Linked DNA regions of Homo sapiens: regions 2 and 3 are each linked to region 1. The links come from fine-mapping of genetic effects on gene expression. A gene starts in region 1. Each other region holds a variant in brackets. All regions are shown on one strand. Distances are between the middles of the regions.

The links. PIP is the estimated chance that this variant, and not a neighbour inherited with it, causes the effect.
Region 2: its variant is fine-mapped to the expression of PAMR1 in fibroblasts (GTEx, PIP 0.97).
Region 3: its variant is fine-mapped to the expression of PAMR1 in nasal epithelium (TOPMed, PIP 0.96).

The regions. Positions count from the first base shown.
Region 1 is chr11:35,522,135-35,530,297 of GRCh38, forward strand. PAMR1 (peptidase domain containing associated with muscle regeneration 1) reads right to left here and starts at 3,482. Exons shown (of 11, transcript NM_001001991.3): 1 at 3,379-3,482. The coding sequence starts at 3,451.
Region 2 is chr11:35,584,697-35,592,879 of GRCh38, forward strand. No RefSeq gene overlaps it. Among named protein-coding and RNA genes, the nearest start is that of FJX1, 30 kb to the right of the region's middle. The variant T/A (reference allele first, on the strand shown) is at 4,777.
Region 3 is chr11:35,494,071-35,502,253 of GRCh38, forward strand. It overlaps PAMR1 (peptidase domain containing associated with muscle regeneration 1), which reads right to left. Exons shown (of 11, transcript NM_001001991.3): 2 at 26-202. Among named protein-coding and RNA genes, the nearest start is that of PAMR1, 27 kb to the right of the region's middle. The variant G/A (reference allele first, on the strand shown) is at 3,377.

The DNA of each region.
Region 1 (8,163 bases):
GATGGCCTCGATCTCCTGACCTCGTGATCTGCCCGCCCTGGCCTCCCAAAGTGCTGGGATTATAGGCATGAGCCACTGCGCCTGCCTCAAATCGTTTTTAAGTGCATGGTTCAGTGGCATAAGTACATTCATACTATTGTGCAACCATCACCACCATCTATCTCCAGAACTTTTTGCTATTCCACATTGAAACTCTGTACCCATCAAATAATAACTCCCATTCCATCTTCTCCTGGGCCCTGGCAATTACCACCCTACTTTCTGTCTACATGAATTTGACTATTCTAAGTACCTCATATAAGTGGCATCACAGAACATTTGTCTTTTTGTGTCTGGCTTCTTTCACTTAGCATAAGGTCTTAAGGTTCATCTGTGTTATAGCACGTATCAGAATATCCTTTATTTTTAAGGCTGAATAATATTCCGTCGTAGGTGTATACTGTATCTTGTTTATCAATGGACATTCGGGTTGTTTCCACCTTTTGGCTATTGGGAATAATGCTGCTATGAACATTGATGTAAACATATCTAATCAAGTCCCTGCTTTCAATTCTTTTGTGTATACACCCAGAAATTGAATTGCTAAATCAAATGGTAATTCTATGTTCAATTTTTGGGGGAACCATACTTGTATATCCTTAAACCTCTGTGTATCATAGAACCTCTCTGAACCTCATCTGTAAAACACGGATAATAACAGCAATGCCATTTCAGGGTGGTCTGAGAATTAATGCATATGAAGCCTTTGGCTCAAAGACTGGACACATTAATAAATGTTCACTAAATGTTTGCTTGATGTTTAATCTCTTCATCCTCTGAATTGAGGGACTCATACTAAAATAATTTCTAAAGTCACTCTCAGCTCCTAAACTCCATGATCCCATCATTAAATTATTTTCCTGTTGGGGATGCCAGGAGCTCTCAGATTGTATATTAGGGGAACACCCTCTTCATGATCCCCGCAAAAATCCACCCGTGCCAAGAAGGCCCAATTTTCCTAGCTTTCTCCTAGGAATTTGCCAACATATCCCAGTGTAATCTCACATCTCATTTTTCTTGCCACTCCTTCTCCCTTGCTTTCTTTCCATGTTTCCTTTCTCGGCTGGCTTTTCCTGCCCACTGAATATCTGCACTTCAAATTATCTTCCCTGGTTGCATTTATGTTCATTCCCCACAAGTTAATGTCTGTTGGAAGCAACACTTGTGAAGTTCTCCAGATTAAGTTTTCATTCCCAAGAGTCCCATATTTTAAATGAGGTTTTCCTCTTCGGCAGAATCACACTGGCAGAGCTACCGCAATTTGGTGAAGTCAGTGGAGTTGGGTTTCTCCCCTCATTCTGTTTATGTTGGGTTATCGCTTGGCCTCATGTTTGGATTCTCATCCTCCCAACATGTGTCACATGCCAGTGAGAAACAACACTCTCTGGTACCATCCCAGTGGATGTTTACAATTCAGCAAATACTCTTTTTAGAAAAGTTAATTAGAGGAAATACGCTTCCAAGCTTTTCTTGCCTGGGGCCAGATTCAGCATCCCAGCAGGGAGTGGACTTCCTTCACTCCTTGAGGAAATATTTTCCTTCTCCACGCTATTCCTCCGTCTTCCCTCGAAATGTGAGTAAAACATTCAACAACTAAAATATCCTTGCTAAACACATGAAGCTGCGCTCTGGTTCAGGCAGCAGTTTAGCTACCAACAAACTGCGTATCCTCTCTGAAGCTTTTTCACAGCCAAAGGTAAAAGAGGTTCTCGGGTCAGAAATAAATGGATTTTTCAGATTCTGGGCTAGGAAAAAGAGCCAGCTCAGGTTTTTTTATTTTCTTTTAAACTTTTATGGCTTTGAAGCGCCTCACCTGCCATGTAATAAAACAGGAAGCAGGGGAACGCTGATGTAACCCTGAGGAATCAAATCCACTGAGCCCTGGCACTCTGAGAAGAACCAGGTCCTCTGGAGCTGGTCCACCGACACCATGCAAAGGCGAAGATGAAGTAGGGAGGTGCCTTAATGCAAAGTCACCCACTTACCCCTAGGCAAGTGTTTAGGTTTATGGATTGTCAGCCCTTATGAAGGGCTCCTTCTTCCTTTATTATTGTCTTTGGGCTGCTCCAGACACCATGGAGGCAAAATTCAAATGAAACACTCACCATCTTTATTGTAAATCATTAAGGAAGATCCTACCTGGGCAGGCAGGCTCTAGGTAGATGGAAAGTATTGACCAAAATGAAGGGCAGGGGGGTTTGTGTATCTCAGCTTTTCGTTGATCATGAAGGGATGTGCCTATGGCTAAGTTTCCCTTCTACACAGGTTATTGCATTTAGTATCCTCCCCACCCGACCTGGCCTGTTTCATTCTCAGGCACTTGCCAGCTACTTGCAGCGGCAGAGCACCCAGCTCTCAGATAGAGTTCAGGTGACAGGTAACCAGCACAGAAGGGAAGCAGCGAAGGCTCGTACATAACCTGCCCCTATTCAGAGCTGCCCCGTTTGGTCATTTCTGTACATCTCGGCCTGCCCTCATCTCATGAGGTCTCACTTTACCCCCTGGGCCATAGAAGGACAGATGTTCCTATGACGTTCCCACTTCCCCGCCTGCCAGCAAGCAGGATCTGCCATGTCCTCGCTTCTGCCCTTAGCTGGATCTCCGTATCATGTCCCAGCCTCATTTGTCCCCAGAAGCCCATTTGACCTGGGGATTGTGGCTTAGAAAATGATATATGAAAACCAAAGAAGCCAGAGCTCTTTCAAAACAAACCCTATGCATCCCAGAAACAATCTGCACTTTTAACCTTGGCTTTTTCTTCTTTCTCACTCTCATCAGAAAGGAAGTGTGTCTATATATGCTGAGTGAGTCAATCTCCTGTGCTTGGATCTACTCCGAAGGGGTATGGCTGTAGGAGTTCGTGAAGCAAGATTCACCAGAAGAACACCAAGCAAGCCCTGCTCTTTATTCCTTTCTTTCTTTCCCTCTCTTCTTTCTTTCTTGCTCACCTCTGAGGGAGCCCTTTCCAAGAGAAACTTCGCTTTTGCAAGTCAGAGCGGGTAACTCAGAATTGATTCCCTAAGGCAATTTGGTACTTTTAAAATGATAAAAAGAGCAAATAAAATAGGAGCTGGTCCGCTTTCCTGAGACAGTACAGCCCCACGATTTGGGATGACAAAACCACGTCACAGTCTCAGGGAGGGCCACAGGAGCTCCAGCACCACCAGCCAAGTCCCTAAAATTATCACTGGAAAAGCACCACCCCCCCTCAACCCCTCACCCCAAACACACACAGCCCACCTCCTGAGACTCCCAGTCCTGCTCCCAGGCAGACCCCAGGAGGAAAATGCTCCCTCCTAGGGTGTCCTCCTAGGGTGTCCCGGACGCTACTCACAGTACCTCTTGGCAAGGACGAGATGAGAAGGAGCTGAAGAAAAGTGAGCCCCAACTGCGTCCAGCAACCCAGCTCCATCCTTGCCGCGGCTGGTGCCCGAGCGTCTACTGGGGAGGGAGAGGAGGGACCCAGGGAGGCCGGGGGCAGGCGGGTTTTACAGGGACCTCCCCGAGCCCCAGCTGAGCGGGAGCTCGGGTTTCAGCTCGCCAGGCTCTCCCATCCTCATCTGAGGGGAACCACCTTCAGCCAGAGCGACGTCAGCCCAAACCTCTCCTCTCTGCTGCCTTAACCCTTGCGGGGCCCCGGGAGGTGTGGCCACGCCTGGAGACCCGCGGACGGCGGCTGCAAAGGAAGCTGCGGGGGAGGGAGGCCAGCCTGGGTACAGGTGGGGTCCCAGTGTTGGGTGCTGGGAGGAGGGGCCATAGGACCCTGGGCGGGAGCAGAGGTACCCAGGGCTGCGGGGCGCTCAGGTGAGGCCGGGAGATCTTCCTACGGGAGGCTGAGACGGGAGCTGGCTTTGCCCTCTCTGACTGCACGCGGGGAGCCTGATTAAAAGCCTGGCCTGAGGAGAAGGAGGAGTTGGTGATGGGAGGAGAAAGGGAGCCTCCCTCCACTCCGCACGCAACACTCCTCGTTTATCTCCTTTCCTCTCCGTTTGCTCCAGGTGATCACAGGTTGGAAAGCTTATTATCTTTTGCAACTACAGGCTACTGGAAAAAGTTTTCCTCTTCCTATGATCCCCGTCATGGTGAATTCAGCGACATAAGCAGCTCCTGAGCTACTGGAAAAAGTTTTCCTCTTCCTGTGATCCCCACGATGGTGAATTCAGCAACATAAATAGCTCCTGCGCACACGCCAGGCAGGGATGGCGAAGAACACACAAGAACCCTCACTGCCTCCACCAAAAGGGCTCAGTTTAGGTACAAGATAGCAAGTGACATCTCGAAATGAGGAAGAAGGATGTTTCATAATAGGTGACTTTTTAAAATAAACTCCTCCGTGCCAGGTGTCATGTACCTTACATGTATTAACTCAATTATTCCTCACAATAAACCTAGCCTCTGTATTTTACAATTAGAGAAACGGAACCATTGAGGATTACAATAACTCATCCAAGGCCACACAGTTAGTGAGGGGCAGAGCCAGGGTTTGAACCCGGGCAGCTTAGGCCCACAGGCTATAGTCTTAGCCACTAGGCTATAGAGCTTCTTAGGATGCTACATATGCAGAATTGTATTTCACCATTTGATATGGCTTCGCTGTGTCCCCACCCAAACCTCATCTTGAATTGTGGTTCCCATAAACCCCACGTGTCATGGGAGGGACCAGGTGGAGATAATTGAATCATGGGGACAGTTACCCCCATAAAAGTTTTAATTTTGTTCTCTAGATGTTGGCGGGCCCTGGTGGTTTACAAGTAGGGTGTGCTGAGCTCAAAGCAAAGTCTCGGGAAGAGAAGTCACCCTGGACTATTGATGAAGGCCTGGAGTAAGGATTAAGAAATGGAAGTGGAAGGGAAAAGATAAGGGGAGAAACCTGAGGAAGGTAGAATCTGTAAAGCTCAGGACAGATCAGAAGGTCAGGAGCCCTGACACAGGTGCTCTACTAGAAAGAATTTCTGAACTCCAGCCCTGCTTCTGGGGGCCTATTGCAGTGAAGTGACTGGAAGCAAGAACTCAGCAGGCCTGTGTTCTAATTTTGTTGATTCACCACTTTCTGGCTGTGTGACCTTAAGCAAGTTAACTCTCTGAATCTCAGTCTTCTCATCTATAAAATGGAAATAATAATCAAACCTACTTTGTAGATCACTGGAAGAATTTAATAAGATTACGCATGTAAGGCCCATAGCACAGAGCCTACCACATATTAAGTGCACACTAAATATTAATCATTATCTCTATTATCTGACCTGAGACTGCCCCCAAGAACATCTCATGGTATGAGTCTTGTTCCTACACTCAACTTCCATATCGAGATGAAATCAGTTAAAATAAGCACCAAGAGTAGCCTTAAACAGGAGCAGAATACCAGAGGGCAGCATATACCTAAGAGGTAGAGGGCAGAGGTTCGAAGAAGGGAGGTTCACCTTGTTGCTGGCCAACCAGTCCTGGTCCTTTGGTGATGGGAGTGGGAAGAAGATGACTTAGTTCCCAAATAACTGTAGGCATAAGAGCCTCTCAGGAGTCTGTTTCAACTCCAGCTGACGGCACCTGAGCTTTACAGATTCTACCTTCCTCAGGTTTCTCCCCTTATCTTTTCCCTTCCACTTCCATTTCTTAATCTTTACTCCAGGCCTTCATCAATAGTCCAGGGTGACTTCTCTTCCCAAGACTTTGCTTCGAGCTCAGCACACCTTACTCCTAAACCACCAGGGCCCACCAACATCTAGAGAACAAAATGAAAACTTTTATGGGGGTAACTGTCCCCATGATTCAACTATCTCCACCTGGTCCTTCCCATGACACGTGGGGTTTCTTTTCATCTTCCCTCTCCCCACCTCCCAGCCCCCACCACACACACCTCTCTGAGTCAATACCAAGCAGCCTCATCCCTACATGAATTGCATCCCCCTGACAGAATGGGGCTCTAAGTGATGAACCTGAAGGATAGCAGTCTATACCACCCCCAAATATGCCCCTTTGGCATAAGGATTATTTTGAGCTGAAAGCAGTTAAGAAGAAGTAGATACAAGAATAGGTCTCTGTTCTCCCCCCATTTTCCTAAAAGCAGACTTGAATTTATAAAAGTATAGTGTCTCCACCTCCCCTCTCTACCAGGACGGACAGAAGTTAATCATTGGAGACAACCCTAGACCCTTATCAGCCCAGAGGAATCTACATACCAAAACTTACTAACTAGTCTTATCTCCCATTAGGACCCCCATTTATTTATCTTCCCATAATTTGCTACCCCTAGAAGCTCAAAGTCCTTTTTGTTTGTCTTGCCACTTCTCTGCAAATTTATTGTTCTTTTTAAAAATGCAATATGAACCCAAATTCTAACCATCTCTTTGAGTTACTCCTCACTAGGTATTTCAACATGTAAGCACCATGCACAAGTTAATAAAAAACTTTTGTTTGTTTTTCTCTTGTTAATCTGTTTTTTCTTTTTTTTGTCATTCTAATTTACAGGGCCACAGCCAAGGAATCTAAGATGGGTAGGGAAGAAAGATTATTTTTCCTTCCCAACAAACCTGTTTGGCTATTTGCTAAGGAAGTCCCTGGTACCAGGTCTTTACTTCTCTAGGTTCAGGGGTCTGGAAACAGAGGCCCTTCTTCTGTTTCTGGAATCCCCTTCAAGAGTTGATTTGTTAGTTTGTTGTCACTAATTTGGGTTTGTAAATTTCCTAGAGCTGAGGACCTGGAAAGAAACTCTCAAAAAGATGCTCTGCAAAGGTGGAGGATGTATTTTTCTGGAGAAGTCAAAGCAGTAATCAGATATTACCTTGTTGAACTGCACAATAATCCCAGGGCTGGAAGAGAAAGAGGAGAACTGTTATTATGACACAGAAAAGTCAGTAGTTTACTGAGGACATTCAGCCCTACACAAATTTCTGTTTTCCTACACAAGTTTACCTTTCTCTGTCCCCATTATGGTCAACTGCATTTTTCATATTGATAGAGTTTAGTATTGTTCTAAATCAAGGATTCTTAATCTGGAAGCTCCTGGTTGAGATGGGGTTTTTTGAGGGACTTTGAATCTTCCAAAATCATATGCAAATTTTTGCATGCAGGTTTTTGAATAAGAGGGAGCCATAGCCTTCTCATTTGCAAACTCCCAACTTTTTTAGAATCACTAATCTTCGTAAGTTAAAATTGAAAAATGGACCAAATATTTCTCAGATTTGGGGAAAGTGATTTTGTGAATATATACAATCATTGAGTCTAGGCTATAAACTGCACAGTGGACATTTGGAGGGCCCTCTCACCTCCTCCTCACCTTTAAAAAACTATTTCTGACTTAAGAGCACTTGCTCTGGACCATACTGACTAATGTTGAATGCAGATGGACCACTCGCTACCTGTGTACACTTGGGCATGTTATTTCACATATGATGGCCTTGGTTTCCTCATCTGTTAAGTCTGAAGAATAGTACCTGTTGCCATTAGGGCTAGAGTAAAGAGCTCAAAACAGTGCCTAAAATATACTAAGATATCAGTAAATGTTAACTGTTTCTGTGATGCTTATCTCCCCCTCTGCCCTCACCTCCTACCACTGCTTGCTTCGGGGAGAATAAATCACAAGAAAGGCTGTGTATGAAAAAGACAAAGTGGCATGCTGGGAGATAGGGCATGATACCTGGAATTAAGAATTATCTACTAATAATCAGCATCAGGAATAAAAAATTGGCTGTAATAGACAGAGTCAGGCCACCCATTTAATTACAAGTCATAATACCCACTAATTTTCACATGGTACCTTTTTCAGTGCCACCAGGGAGGCTGGTTGCATGTGAATCCACAGGGAGAAACAGCAGAGGAGACTGTCTTTGTGAATTCTTACAGTTCCCTCTATCTCCCAGCTATCACTTCTGCAGATCAGCAGCTAAGCAGCAACCACACACTGGGAAAGCCAGAGGAAACAGGCCAGAGGTAGAACTGGTCTGCAAACCTATAAGAGGCATCCCAGACTTCTGGTAATTAAGTTTGGTTTCCATCAGCTGTGCAAAACACCAAGTTCAAGTCAGCCAAGGCCAGAGATGGAGAAGGGCAGGATTGTGGAAAAGACAAAGGGCCCTTCCACTGGAGCCTGCTGTAACTGGCCCCTTCATGGAAGTCTCCAGCCCTAAT
Region 2 (8,183 bases), 63 kb after region 1:
AGCATAGACATGCCAAATTTAAAAGAATTAATGAGGCAGCAGTCAATATCATGTTTTCATTTGAAAGGTAATTTGGTTTCAGCAAAACAACATCATCCTTCCCATTAAATTAAGGTTGTTAAATTGGCTTTGTAGTTTTGTTTGAATTTAACTTGTATTGAATTATATAATTTAACTTGTTTTTGGTTTTATATATATATCAGAGCCATAAGGATAAATTTGAAAGTAGCATTATAATTAAACAATTTAAGTAAACACTGGGAGGAAAAGTGGAAATTGCTTTTTTCTTTCAAAAGGCTCCATTTATTACTAAAGATTAAGGGGCAGAGTTAACATGAAGATTTTCAAACAGTGATTTCCCCCTAGACTATGATTCTAGTAGACCCTAAATATTTTTACCCTGGAAATACTTGTTTTAGATCTTGTCCACACTCACCACTCAACCTCAATGCCTACTCAGTTGCTGCCCTCTTTAGAAAAAGAAGAAACATGGAATTGTGTAATATTTGCAGCATTTCATGAACCAAAGAAATTTTGCCCAAGAGGATGGGTAGGTTACTCTCTGATTGCTAGTTGATTTCTGTTGCTTGAAAGGACAGGAAAGTGAAAAGTTCCTTCCTTTTCCTCTTGTCTTACCCATGACTGCAGTTTCTAGGGTAACTGCCTGAAAAGGGCAATAAACATTCCAGCCCCCTAACGCAAAGGTGTAGAAAGTGACAAATAGAGGGGTTCTGCAGCAGTGCGTACATCAGTCTATCTGGTGCTTGGAGATCCTTTGGGATGAGAGGTACTACATAACTTTAAGTTATAGAGACGCTTAATCAACCATTCTCCCACTGACCTGTGTTCTGTCCGTGATTTACTGGCACCTCTGTTTACCTACAGGATAATGGTCCTGGTGGGGAAGAGTATGAGGAAATAAATGACTAGGTGGGTGATTAATTGTCCTCGCACAACACAGGGTCTGGTACCAAGATCATTATTTCTATTGTATGACAAGAAAGAAAGAAGGAACAGTGAAGCAGTGTGCATAAATAATGGGAGAAAGATTTCTTCATTGCTCAGGAAAGCTTTGCTGTCCCATTCTTTTCAGACTTTCTGAAGTGGCCTGTCCCGTAGTGTGAATTCTCATCTCTCTCTTGAACCTTCAAAACTGGTCTTCACCAATCCATTTGACATGGGGCTAACAGATATTTGGGGGATAGTTTCCATCCTATTCACTACCAAATGCAAAGGGAGTATGGAACTGTTACTTTGCCCTTTCTGGAGCTTAACAATGCAAGCCACCTCCTGGGAGACAGCTCTGGGTTCCAAAAATAAGAGGCAGGAGAGAAGAATATATATTTGGTTTGAATGAAAACTATGAGTAAGGGCAGAGCAATATGGAGAAGAGTTCAGGACCCAAAGGCATCAGCTTTCAGCATTTTATTTTAATTAACTAAATCAAGCATTTAGCTCAGTTGTTCTCAATCCCAGTACATATTAGAAACACTTCACTTGGGAGCCTCCAAAAAAATACCAATGCCCAGGTCTCACCTCAGACCAATTAAATCAGAAAGAGGCCAATACCTTAAAATAACTGACCAAATGGAAATGAAATTCCTGGTCCTTGAAAGTAACTCTTTAGGAGACTTGGAGCATTGATTTCATCAGAGAATCCCTCGCCTGTCTATAGAGAGCAGCGGAGAAGAGCAAAGCACAAGCTGCTGTGGACTGTTCCAACTTCAACATTACTGCTTCCAATAGGAGGAAATAAATCACTAAAGAACTGTGCCTTATTTTAACTAGCCTGGGCTTTAATAGCCCATCAGCTTTGGTTTAAATGCTTTTCGATAGCACTGAGCATTTGACCTTAAGCAAAGCACTTGGATTCAACCTTGACATTTACCATAATTAGACAAAGAAGATTTTGCTCATTAAATATTATTTTTGTTTCTTGGACCATGAACTGAATTGTGAATGATCTCCAGTTTCAGGCAATGCAATGGCATGACCCTCAGTTCCTTGCAGCTGATAGCAGCTACAAGTCCCAATCTGCCCTCAACGGAAGGCAGGAGGCAAGGCTAGCATTTCCCACAGGTTCTCTTTGCTACTTGCAGCTACTGAGAAATGTCACAGAGGCTGGCATCCACCAAAGGGAGGATGGGTAGAGGGTCAGAGAGGTAGGCGGCCCCATGCCAGTTCTCATGGATATGAACTTTAATGCCATGGAATCCCCACCCACTGAGATAAAGGAGTGGATCATTTTTGGCAATGCCCACCCAGTTCAAGTAGAAACTCTTAACTCCCTCCTCATCACAGCAGTGAGCCTTTGGCAGTTATTTTGTAAAATATTGCCTCAATCTTCTGCCATGATTGATTGGCCCAGATGTTGCCAATTCACTCAAGTTAGATTGAACAAAGTTCTCCCAGGAACTGGAAATGGAATCAAGAAAAAGAGAATATGACTTCGGATAACCAGACCTGTACAATGGACATGTTCCAGCCACCATGCAAATTGAGAAGCAGAGAAATCAAGGCTCCAGGAAAAAAGAAGAATGGAAGAAGAGATCAGAGGCAAGAGACCCAGATTGAGTATGGCTTGTGTGTGCCCTGATCCCTGATCTTGGTGCTTCTCCAAGCCCCATTTTGTTCCTGTTGTTGGCTTCCAAAAAAACATTCCTGTGTCTTTATAATAAACTCCCCTGCAAGAAAAAGTGAGCTTTAACTGATTTGTTTGTTCTTTCATTAAGGCTTAAATTTTTTAGAGCAGTTTAAGGTTCAAAGCAAAATTGACAGGAAGATATAGAAATTCCTTCTGCCTCCACAAATGCACAGCCTCCCCCACTATCAACATCCCCCACTGGAGTTTTCCATTTGTTACCATTGATAAGCCTACATGAACTCATCCTTATCACCAGAGTTCATAGTTTACATTACAATTTACATTTGGTGGTATATGTTCTATGGGTTTGGACATAGGTACAATGCATAGTATCAGCTCTACTCGTTTCACTGCCCTAAAAATCCTCTGTACTCTGTCTTTTCACTCCTCCCTCCCCCTCAACCCCTGGCAGCCACTAATCTTTTTACTGTCTTCATAGTTTCCCCTTTCCCAGAACATGAATCACACAGTATGCAGTCTTTACAGGTGGGCTTCTGTCACTTAGTAATATGTATTTAAGGTTTCTCCATGTTGAACCGGTTTTTGTTACTTACAAACATGACCTAAGCAAAGCAGATGGGGAAACATCTCTTCCCTGTTCCCTTCCTCAACATTGTTTATCTTCCCTCCTTTCTTGATGTGGTGTCCGGGGACCAGGTCACCCACTTAAACCCAAAATCTAGGCTGGGCATGCTGGCTCACACCTGTAATGCCAGCACTTTGGGAGGCCAAAGCAGACAGATCACTTGAGCCCAGGAATTTGAGACCAGCCTAGTTATCATGGTGAAACCCCTGTCTCTGTGAAAAATACAGAAATTAGTCAGGCGTGGTGGTGCACGACTGTAGTCCCAGCTACTCAGGAGACTGAGGTGGGAGGATCACCTGAGCACAGGAGGTCAAGGCTGCAGTGAGCCATGATTGCACCATTGCACTTTAGCATGGGTGACAGAGCAAGACCCTGTCTCAAAAACAACAACAGCAACAACAAAAATCCAGATGTAATCTCTAACTCTCTGGAAACTCCACCCACTGAGATAAGATAGTGGATCCTTTTCGGCAACATCTTTCCAGTTCACAATGAGACCCACAACTCCCTTGTGATGGCTAATTTTACGTGTCTACTTATCTGGGCCACAGTGCCCAGATATTTGGTACATTATTCTGGATGTTTCTGCAAAGATGTTTTTTGGATGAGATAGATTTTGAGTAAAGCAGATTACCCTCCATAATGTGGGTGGGCCTTATCCAAACAATGGAAGGCCTTAATAGAACAAAGACTGGCCTCTTCTCCCCAAGCAGAAAGGAATTCTGCTAGCAGACTGTCTTTCAACTCAAACTGCATCTCTTCTCTGAGTCTGCAACCTGCCGGCCTCCTCACGTCTCCCATCTAATTTTGGACTCACCAAGTTTCCACAATCATGTGAGCCAATTCCTTAAAATCTCTCCCCCTCTCTCTGTCTCCATATATTTACATATATAGCACACATCCATCCTGTTGGTTTTGTTTTTCTGAAGAGCTGGAGAACTCTGACTAATACATTCCTCCTCGTCCACAACAGCGTGCCTCTGGTTATTATTGTCTCAATTCCCTCCTTATATTTATTTGTGATGTTTTAGCATTGATATTAACTGACAATATGGAGGGAGTGTGGTGAAATGGAATGAACACTGGACCCCATTCAACTAATTAGTAGGGGTAATTAGTTGGGCAAGTCACCAATCCTGAGCAAGCCACTTAACTTCTCTGAACCTCCTCCTAGACTATAGTATTCCTGAGGGTCCTCCTAGTTTCATAACATCTCAATGGGAGGTGAGCCACTCCCTGTTCTGTTGGCCTTCACCAAGGCTTGGGACACACAGCTTGAGGTGCCTGTCCCTTTCTTTTCCATATTTTTCCTTGGTTGGAAATCTTGTTTCTGCTCCTATAATCCTTTTGTCATTTTGGACCTGGGAAAGGGAAGGCAAAGGGTAAAGAACAAGGAAGAAGGAGGATATGAGGACAGTTCTTGCTGGAGAGAAGGGGAAGATAGAAGGTGCTTTCCGTGGAGGGAGGAGCTGAGAAGAGGGCTGAAGAGAGGATGGGCAAGTGTGACAGTGTCCTGAATTCCCTCCCACAACCAAATCAAAACCCC[T/A]GGCTGGGCTGGGTGTGCGCATGCGCTAGGAACTTAAGGAAACTTTGGAGAAACCTAGCAAGACCATGGCTGGTGCTCTGCTTCCCCAGGTACAGCCTGGGAGAGCCACAGCCTGTGGGAAAAGTCTGCATTTCCAAAGGGTGCCGTGTACATCAGGTTTGGGTACTAATGGGCAGCATGGGCAGAAGTGGGTGCCTGTATAGCCAGGGCCTGAGATAGCCTCATTCTAGCCCACCCTAGCTCTCTCTTGGCTTCAGCAGAGCACAAAGAAGATCTGGAAAGTTCTCAGGGACCAATAAAAGGGATGGCGAAAGTAAAGAAGAATTAAGAATTGAGAAGCCTGCCTGCAAGTGCTCACTGAGACACAAGATGGGGAAACCCTGTAGCAGAAGCCACAGGGAGGTCTGGCCAGGTCTGGGGGTCTCAAGGAGCTTGTGACCATGTCTCAAAGGACCAGTATCACCAGCAAAATCTCAGGTGGCTGGAGTCAGCAGCAGAAGATGGCTGAAGTTGTATTCCATGGGCTGAGAGAACATTCACCAGGTCCACCAGGCTTCACATTGAGGCAAGGAAGGCTATTAAGGCCAGAAGCTGGGGCCCAGAGAACAGCAGCCCAGAGGACCACACACAGGTGCAGAACTCCTCCTCTCTGCTGTGAGGATATTTAAGGCTCTGCTTCCCTCCACTTCAGGTGCCATCTTGAAAAAGAGTAGAAAGCAACTTCTTGAAAAGAGAGAAACAGACTTGGTAGGAACCACTTCAGAATATTTGCCCAAAGGGAACTATTTTGAACTGGAAGAGACTGGGTTCTCTTTTATTGGCATGTCTATTTTTATTTGTGTTTTTCCCCCTACTTCTATGGGGGCTTCAGAGCAGAAGACAATCCATTACTAAAACAAAAGAAGCTCCTTTCTGGTTTTGCACACCTGAACTCTAGTGTGTAAAGCTTAGCCATAACAGAGGATTGAGAAGGGGAAGACTTTCTTGCCTCCATGCCTTGGAAGGAGAGGTGCTCTTCTCCCACCCTGCTGGGAGAGAGAAAGTCAGGGATGGCTCCAAGGATGCCAGCTACTTCTAGGATGTGACTCACTGTCCCTAAGGATACATCACTGTGATAACAAGCCAGAAATATGAGCATTGAGTTGCAGAAAGATGGCTTGAGTCCCTCCCTCCTCCTGATGCTATAGCAGGTTGCAGAAAGAACTGGGAGAGGCACCAGGGATCCTAGCTTATGGATGAAAGAGCTAAGCCAGGGAGTGGCCTCTCCCTGGTTGCTAAACCAACTGAGGGGCTCAACAGGGAGAGTGTGCCCTTGTCCCTGCTTTTGTCAGTTTCCTTACCTGTTACACTGAGACACTTTAGGAGTTGTTAGAGCTGAGGTTTTCAGAAGAGGTCCCAGGCTTGCCAAGTCGACAAGAGGAAAGATTGGAGGGTAGCCCATGGGAACCAATACTGCCTCTGCCATAGGTATGACACAGCTCAAAATCAGCTTGGAGAGCTCTCTGTGTCCAAGTGTGGTCCGGTTCTGCCTATTCTGTTGTCATCTTATATTACTCTTTTATCCCCTTAGACCTGTCACACTAGTCCATGGCTTTTCCAACCAGACCTATTATTTCTTGAGAATTATCTGAAAGTGAAAAGTTAGTTCTAATACTATCTCTTATAATGTACTTGCTAAAAATGCATCCCTAAAAACATGGAGCTTTCTACAATCTATCTATCTATCTATCTATCTATCTATCTATCTATCTATCTATCTATCTCTACCACCCTAGCTACTTCTGTTCTTACTAGCTACTGCTCAGACCCATGCAAGGACTTGAATCACAATTCCCCCCACGAATTCTGCAAATTTCATTTCTGTATGGTCATCACTCTTGTGTGCCTACAATGTGCAAGGCACAGTAGTAGACATTTGAAATATATCTTATTTAATCCTTACAATAGTCATGAGATGAGGGCAATCAGCCCCATTTTACAGAAGAAATGAAAACAGGAAAGGTTAGAAAGTGAGTAATTTGCAAAGGCAGGAGTCAAAAACATGGGTCTATCTTTAACCAAAGCCCATGCTCCTTCCATTATAATGCACTGCTTCCTTATTGCCTGCTCTTACCCCAAAGCTGCGTGTGGCCACACACCAATGCCTTCTCTCCATGCTGCTGCTGTTGCTTCTGCAGCTGCAAAATGAGAGCTCCCATGTAACCCTCTGATTTTTCACTGTCATTTTTGCGGAAAAATAACAACTTCTGGATTAAGTTCAGAACTGAACTGGACTTCACTAACTGGACTGAACTGAAAAAATCTCACTCTTCTTCAGAGACCCTTCATTTCTTGTTTCCATTATCAATTGCATCCACAACAATAGTGAAAACACGTCTGTTTATGTGTATGTGCAATATATATTCCTTTAGGTTGTCGACAAAAAGAAGACATAGAGAGAATTGAAATGTCTAAATGATTATATGACAGTTTATATTATGCCCCATTGCTGTCTCAGGAGAACTGTCCAAATATCAGTTACAGGGAGAAAATGACTTCACCAGAATGTAAATGCAAAACCAGCCAATGCTTTCCAGAATTTTGTCAACATATTTTAAACATCCTAATTATTGGACATATTACAGTTAGTCCATAAGGATGGCAAAGACCATTTTCCTTGTGCATCCTATTTCATCATTTATATTGGTAGAATGTGTACCTTCACTTTTAGAATAACGTCCCAGTTTTGTCCTTCCTGAACTTTTCCCTTCTTGTCACTGGTTATTTCTCTGTATCCTTCAGGTGGTTTTTGCTAAGTTCTTGAGGTATTACTTAATCGTGCCTTTCTGTCTTCCACGTTCTGAAGCAATTGAGAAGTATACAAAGGAATCAGAGGTCCTAATAATAGTGGTAATACTGGCTACCTGGTCTGGTGAATGGAAACTGTCCCTGTGATCTGAATGAGTTTTCTATTCCATACTGAGTTATACTTAGCCACCTTTTCATGGCCACAGCAGCTAAACAACTGGAAGCCTTTCCTCTTGAGGGCAGAGCTTGCCTTGGCAGACTCACCACATGAAAGAGGCAGGAACAGAAGGAAGAACCTATACCAGCTTCAGGCCATCTAACCTAAGAAAGGGAGCCACAGAGAGTATAACACTTAAAAAACCATTGCTGGCCAGGCACGGTGGCTCACGCCTGTAATCCCAGCACTTTGGGAGGCCAAGGCAGGTGGATCATGAGGTCAGGAGTTTGAGACCAGCCTGACCAACATGGTGAAACCCCATTTCTACTAAAAATACAAAAATTAGCTGGGCATGGTGATGCATGCCTGTAATCCCAGCTACTCAGGAGCCTGAGGCAGGAAAATCGCTTGAACCGGGGGGACAGAGGTTGCAGTGAGCCAAGATCGCACCACTGCACTCCCG
Region 3 (8,183 bases), 28 kb before region 1:
CTGAAGTCTCCCATTCCACACTCACCTGGGTGGATCAGGCAGGAGTCACACTCATTCTCCTCATTCCTGCAGCAAGGGATGGTATAACCCACGACTTCCCTCTTTCCGGGGCAGACGCACTCAATCTGATCATATTCACAGCACTCCCGACACATGATATTCCACTCTGCTCCAGGGCAGGCTTCATTAATGACTGTGTACTCTGAAATGGAAAACCAGCAGGTGAGGCTAGGTCCTGGCAGGGAGTGGTAAGACTCTTTGTTTGTTTGTTTGTTTGTTTTGAGACGGAGTCTTGCTCTGTCGCCCAGGCTGGAGTGCAGTGGCGCGATCTCGGCTCACTGTAAGCTCTGCCTCCCGGGTTCACGCCATTCTCCTGCCGCAGCCTCCAGAGTAGCTGGGACTACAGGCGCCCACCACTACGCCAGGCTAATTTTTTGTATTTTTAGTAGAGACCGGGTTTCACCGTGTTAGCCAGGATGGTCTCGATTTCCTCACCTCGTGATCCACCCGCCTCCGCCTCCCAAAGTGCTGGGATTCCAGGCGTGAGCCACCGCACCCGGCCCAGGGAGTGGTAAGACTCTTAAGTACTCTACTGCTAAGAGGCAACCTTGCCCTATAAATGCATTGCCCTGCCCGAATGAGAAAGAAGACCCATGTGAATTCTTCCCAGGCCAATGTCTCCAAAGTAGGGAGACCTACCCCAAGGAATATTTAAAACCACGCATGGGAGCATAGATGAAGTTTGTTATAACTGCTATTCATTTTTATTTTTATCTTTAAAAAAAGAAATCAAGTTTCATCAATATATAATCTAGGTGGATTGACAATAGAACCTGTATATAATTTATAAACCAGCACACATCTCTTAGGTGTCTATGCTTATTTATATTTTTGTTAGAATACATCAGGCCACTGTTTACGACTACATAGGTTGTGCACTGCACAGATCCATAGCGAGCCATTAAACTGCATGACTACATACTGCAGCCCAGGCATGTGGCCATCAGAAAATTTGGAGACCAGTCTCCACACCAGGTCATTCAAGTGCAAGGCCAATTGCCAAGTAGAGACTATGTCATTTCTTCCAAACTTGGCCCCTCAGTTTTTCAGCGTGCCATTTTCATAGTACCTTCAAAGCGAAAACCAATAGAAAAGACAAAAAATACCTTAATTAGTATGTTTGGGAGAATTTCACTGTTTTACAATGGTGAACTCATTAGCCCAACTTCATTCAGGCGCCAAGTGCAACTGAGTGTTCTTTCTCATAAGAAAAAAAAAAAAAATCCCTTTCTGGGCAGGATTCTTTCCTTCTCATTTTCTTTTTTTATATATACCTTCAGTAAAGAGAAAAACCATCTGGCAAAACCTATAAGAGGAATCAGTCAGAGGCTGCCCAGAAGAAGTCAGGCTAAGAAACAGACCTTCTAGTTTTGATTTCCTCTTCTTTTTCCCCACTCTCTATTTCTAAAAATTTTGCACAAAGATGACAATTACAGCTGAAATGAATTGGATATTTGAGGAAGTGAATCCGGACAAGATCCCCACAAAACCTTCCCAAGAAACTCCAGGCAGGGATCACCAGCATGCTTCGTAGGCCCGCATAAATGAATTCTAGCACCTGCAGTGGCTTCTAAACCCTTGAATTTCATAGTTTCCTCCCCAAATTAGGAAGTGTGACACAGGGTTGATCACTCTCAATTTTCCAAGTAGAGCCATTTAAATAAACTATCATCATCTATCTTAGCCTCAGGTCATAAGAACATGCTAATATCATAGAAGGCAGACACTCGCACAATGAGGGACAGTTATTTAAATGGAATAAATTTAGTTTCATGAAAATTTGACTTTTTAAATCATTTTTCCACAAATTAGTGGGCCAGAAAAGATCCTTACATTGGTGTTTGGGAATGAATGGCTACATCATCATAGCATAATCGCCACTGAGATTTCTTTCCACCACTACTGTCTGAGCCCCTTCAGGGTGACCACCATGACTTACTTAGCTGCGCTTCCCATGTCTCTGATGTTTTACTGACAAAGTGAATGACTTCTAAAATCTGGATGAGAATTTAATGGTTAAAAGTGAGGAACAGCAGAAGGAAACATAGGAGTAAATCTCCATCCATGATCTTGGATTTGGCTATGGATTCTTAGACATGACACCAAAAGCAGGAGCAACAAAATAAAAATGAATTAGACTTTATCAAAATTAAAAATGTTTGTGCAGCAAAGGACATTATCAAATAAGTGAAAAGACCACCCACAAAATGGGAGAAAATATCAGAAAATATTTCTGATAAAGGCTTGATATCCAGGACATATTTCTAAAACTCATACAACTCAACCATAAAAAAGACAACATAGTTTTTTAAATGAGCAAATGACTTGAATAGACATTTCTCCAAAGAAGCTATATAAACGGCCAACAAGCACACAAAAAGATGTTTAACATCACAAGTCATTTGGGAAATGCAAATCAAAATCACAATGAGCTACCACTTACTAGGGTGGCTATGATCCAAACCAAGGGAAAAATGGAAAACAAGTGTTGGCAGAGAAGTAGAGAAATTGGAACCCTTGTATATTGCTGATAGAAATGTGAAATGGTGCAGCCCCTATGGAAAACAGTTTGGCAGTTCCTCTTAAAGCTAAACAGAATTGCCCAGCAATTACACTTCTAGGTATAGATCTAAAAAATTGAAAACAGAGACTCAGAGATACTTGTATGCCAATGTTCATTCACAATAGCCAAAAGGTGGAAACAACTCAATTTTCCATCAAGAGACAAATGGATAAACAAAATGAGGTACATGGGCTGAACGCAGTGGCTCACACCTGTAATCCCAACACTTTGGGAGGCTGAGGCAGGCAGATCACTTGAGGCCAGGAGTTTGAGACCAGCCTAGCCAACATGGTGAAACCTCATCTCAACTAAAGATACAAAAAATTAGGCGGGAGCAGTGGTGCACACCTGTAATCCCAGCTACTTAGGAGGCTGAGGCACGAGAATCGCTTGAACCCAGGGGCAGAGGTTGCAGTGAGCCAAGATTGTGTCATTGGACACCAGCCTGGGAAACAGACCAAGACTCTTGTCTGAAAATAATAGTAATAATAACAAATAATATAAAAAATAAAAAATGAGGTACGTGCATACAATGGAATATTATTCAGCCATGAAAAGAAATGAGGAGCTGCTAGGTGCTACAATGTAAATGAACCTTGAAATCATGCCAAGCAAAAGAAGCCAAACACAAAAGGACAAATATTGTCTGATTCTACTTAAATGCAATATCTACAATAGGCAAATTCATAGAGACAGAAAGTAGATTAAAGGTTACCAGGAGCTGGGGGAAAGCTGAATGGAGAGGTGTTGCTT[G/A]ATGGTTACAGAGTTTCTGTTTGGGGTGGTGAACTAGATACAGGTGATGGTTGCACAATCACAGGAATCTAATTAACGCCACAGAATTATACACTTAAAATGGCTAAAATGGCACATTTTCTTAGCCTTCTCTATCCTTCCACTCCTCCTCTGATTATCTGCACTGGGCTTTAATTACCCCTTAGCTCTCCCTTCATTGTACATTTATATCTTCCTATAGGTAAAATGTTTTTGTGTGTCCATAAACCCTAAGACCATGTTGACCACTCTGAATTTTCAATAAATAGTGATTGATCAACTATAACATGTCACTGTACTGATATTTATTACTGTACTACATTATAACATTCAACTTCTCTTCTTTCTCATTGCAAGTAAAATATCTAAAAATTATAACTCAATACAGCTTTCTTTTTTTATATATATAGCTTCTTTTTAACATAGAAAAAAATCATATTTTCAAAGGCTGAGAGAATGAAGGGAAGCCATCCAGTTAGAAAGGATAGCATACCCAAAGGCCACAGGATGGAAATAAACACAGGCCATATGCACAGGACAAAAACCAAGCTTACTTGAAAGTAGCAAAGACTATGAATCCTGTGCAAGTTCTTGTTTACATCACATGCTCCTACCTGTGCCAAGTTTTCCTAGTGGAATGTGTGTTATTAATAATATGCTGTAGTTTTGTAAATCCATGTGGTATAGCCCATTATTCAAATTATTCAAATTTTGGTATTTGTGATACCAGAAAAGGGCACATTTTATGTTATCTACATATATATTACCACAATTTTTTAATTGTGAAAAGTCGAGGAGGGAGAGTGAGAGAGAACAAATTGGTTAGAGGCTCAAACATGGGAGTCAACAGACCTGCATTTGGAATCTCCCTCTGCTACTTGCCTTGGCAAAGCTACGTTACTCTCTCAGTCTCAGTTTAGTATCCAGTAAAATGAGTGTACATTTTCTCCAATTTAGGCCTGTTGAAAATACTAGACAAAATAATGCATATAAACAGCTTAGCACAGCACCCAGTATGTACTAAACATTCAGAAACTAATAGCTTAGAAAGAAAAAAAGAAAAACAATAGAGAATGCTCATATTTCTCAAGGATATGGTTTTTTACGTATGTCAGATCAATTTCTTGCTTAAAATGGTCACCTTGCTTCCCATCGCTTTTGCAGTAACCCTCAAATTCTCTGCCCCAGCCCACAAGGCCTTTGAGGCCTATGCTCACCCGACTCCGTCCACCTTTTCCTGGCCACTGTTTCCCACCTTCTCTCCATTTCTCAAAACCACCAAGCTCTGGCCCACCTTGGGACTCCACATTTGCTTCTCCCAAGGCCTCCGTCTCAGGCCTTCACGTAAATGACGCCTGTTCAGAGAGGTCCTCCCTGGCCTTCCCCTCCAAAATGCACACCCCTTCGATCCCATCCGTGGTTATTTCTGTCTCACTATCCTATGTGTTTCCTTTCCTGGTCCTTACCACAGTTGAGAATCGTTTTCTGTTCTCATTTACCTGCTGACTGTCTGCCTCCCTTACATGCCCATAAGCTAACAGGAGCCACATCAAACCTGTTCACCACTGCCAGGGCAGGGCTGGCTGGCACACAGAGGTGCTGAATAAATATCTGTTGAATGAATTCGGCCTGAACTTAAGAGCTACCCTTCCTTCACTAGTCAAATATTTCCATCCAGTGGGTTCAGCTTGGAGCCATGAGCCAGGAGAGCCAGCTTTGCCTCTAACTTGTTGATACCAGAGCTGGGTGCCTTTCCTCCCACAGCGAGGTATCTAGACATGGGGGTCCAGGTGGCCTGCCTTGGGTTCATATTTCTGGACTCCAGCCCCCACCCTGTACAGATGTATGTTCGTTCCACTCTCTGAACAGCGAATATGCCCATGGGGTGTGGCTCATGCCTCACCCCCTCCCTCTATTCACCCTGCGGCAAGCACTACATCCTTCTAGGTTTTCTAATAATTTTGTAAATACTAATAACTCAAGGGAGGACACCAACAGGATAAATAATTTGCAACTTTTATAAGATTCTGTACATCAACATGGAAGGCCATTTAAGGTTTGTTCCACTCCCTGTTTCCCCCTAAGCAGCAGATTCGTTCACCTCCGGCCTGTCACATGCCAGGGGTCTCCCTTTTACCCAGGAATTAATTCCCTAAAATAGCTTTATTGGTATTTCTCTTTACTCCAGTGAGCAAGCCCACCTCAGCCCTCTTTACTCCATTACTGTTTACTCTATAGATAAGATCCATTTCTCTTTACTCCAATGAGCAAGCCCACCTCTGCCCTCTTTACTTCATTATTATTTACTTTATAGGTAAGATCCATCTCAGTCTAAGGGAATGACCCCAGGGAATCCTGGCAGAAGGGATTTTACAGATGTGACTAGTTTAAGAATTTTGAGATGAGAGGCATATGCTGTAATATCCAGGTGGAACCAATGTAATCACAAGGCCCCCCGTAAGAGGGAGGCAGGATGGTCAGAGTCAGAAAGGAGGTGTGCCGACAGAAATGGAGGTTGGAGTGATGTACTTTGAAGATGGACTGTAGAACCACAACCCAAGGAGGCAGGCAGGCAACCTCTAGAAGTCTGAAAAGGCAAATAAACAGCTTCTCCTGTGGAGCATCCAGAAGGAATGCAGCCCTGCCAACCCTTTGATTTTAGTCTTGTAAGATTCATTTTAGACTTCTGACCTTCACGGCTGGAAGGTAATACATGTGTGCTGTTTTAAAGCCCTAAAGTTGTGGTAATTTGTTACAGTATCAGTAGGGGACTAACATACTGGGACTTCTTGAAAGAAAGGTTAGCCCACAGCAAGTCTTTGAATCACTCTGTTCCTCATTTTCTCCACTGAGCACAATGCCAAGAGCAAGGGTGAATCGATGAACTCATTCTTTTGTTTTTCAAGTATTTATTGAGTGTTGACTACATCCTAGGCAAGAGATGGGGCGCTGGAATACAATAGAAAAAAAATAGACATCATCACTAGCCTGATGGTGCTCACAGTTCAATAGAGAAGACATTGGTCAAACGACCCCACAAATACATAATCATAAACCACAACAGGGAAAACTTAGAATGCTATAAGAATGAATGAGTGGTCATGAAGGGGCATTAGCACCAAATCTACCGACCTCGTCGGGTTAGGGAGGTTTAAATAAAATTACAGAAAGAAATCCATCTACAGCTATGCATCACTTAATGACAGGCATACGTTCTGTGAAATGTGTCATTAAGCAATTTCATCGTTGTGTGAACATCAGAGTGTATTTACACAAATCTAAGTGGCATAGCCTACTACACACCTACACACAGGCTACAAACCTGTACAGCATGTTACTGTACTGAATACTATAGGCAATTGTAATACAACAGTAAGTACTGGTGTATCTAAACATATCTAAACAGAAAAAATATGGTATAAAAGATTTAAAAAATGGAACAGCTATATAAGGCACTTACCATGAACAGAGCTTGCAGGACTGGAAATTGCTCTGGGTGAGTCAGTGAGTGGTGAGTGAATGTGAAGGCCTAGGACATCACTGTACACTACTGTAGACTTTATAAACACCATACACTTAGCCCACACTCAATTTATCAAAAATATTTGCTTCAGTAATAAATTAACCTTAGTTTTCTGTAACTTTTTAATTTTATAACCTTTTTTTTTCTTTTTTTTTTTTTTTGAGACAGGGTCTCACTCTGTCACCCAGGCTGGAGTGCAGTGGCACAATCTCGGCTCAATGCAACCTCTGTTTCCCAAACTCAAGTGATCCTCCCACTTCAGCCTCCCAAGTAGCTGGAACTGCAGGCATGTGCCACCAGGCCCAGCTAATTTTTGTATTATTTTTGTAGAGACAGGGTTTCATCATGTGGCCCAGGCTGGTTTTGAACTCCCGGGCTCAAGTAATTCACCTGCTTTGGCCTCCCAAAGTGTTGAGATTACAGGTGTGAGCCACTGCACCCAGCCAATAAACTTTTTAGTGTTCACTTTTTGAGTCTTTTACAACAGCTCAAAACACAAATACAAGTACAGTTGTACAAAAATATTTTCTTTATGTTTTTATACTATATGTTTTTTCCTGTTTTTAATTTAATTATTATTATTTTTTTTTTACTTTTTAAACTTATTTCTTGAAAACTAAGACACAAACATACATATTAGCCTAGGCCTACACAGGATCAGGATCACTGCTCCCACATATGAGTAAGAACACGCAATATTTATGGTTCTGTGCTTGCTTATTTCACCTAACATGATAACCTTCAGTTCTATCCATGTAGCTGCAAATAAGAGGATTTCATTCTTTCGTATAAATAAATAATATTCCCTTATATATAGGCACCACATTTTCTTTCACCAATCATCCACCGATGGGTACTTAGGTTGATTCCATATCTTGTCTATAATGAATAGTGCTGCAATAAACATAAGAGTGGAGATGTCTCTTTGATATATTTCCTTTTGGATATATTCCCAGTAGCGGAATTGCTGGATCACATGGTAGTTCTATTTTTAGTTTGCTGAGAAACCTCCATACAGTTTTCCATAATGGCTGCACTAATATACATTCCCACCAACACTGTACCAGGGTCCCTCTTTATGTCTTCACCAGCATGTTATTGCCTGTCTTTTTGATAAAAGCCGTTTTAACTGGGTTGAGATGATATCTCATGGCGGTTTTCATTTGCATTTCTCTGCATTTTTTTCATATACCTGCTGGCCATTTGTATGTCTACTTTTGAGAAATGTCTATTCAGATCTTTTGCCCATTTTTAAATTTAATTAAT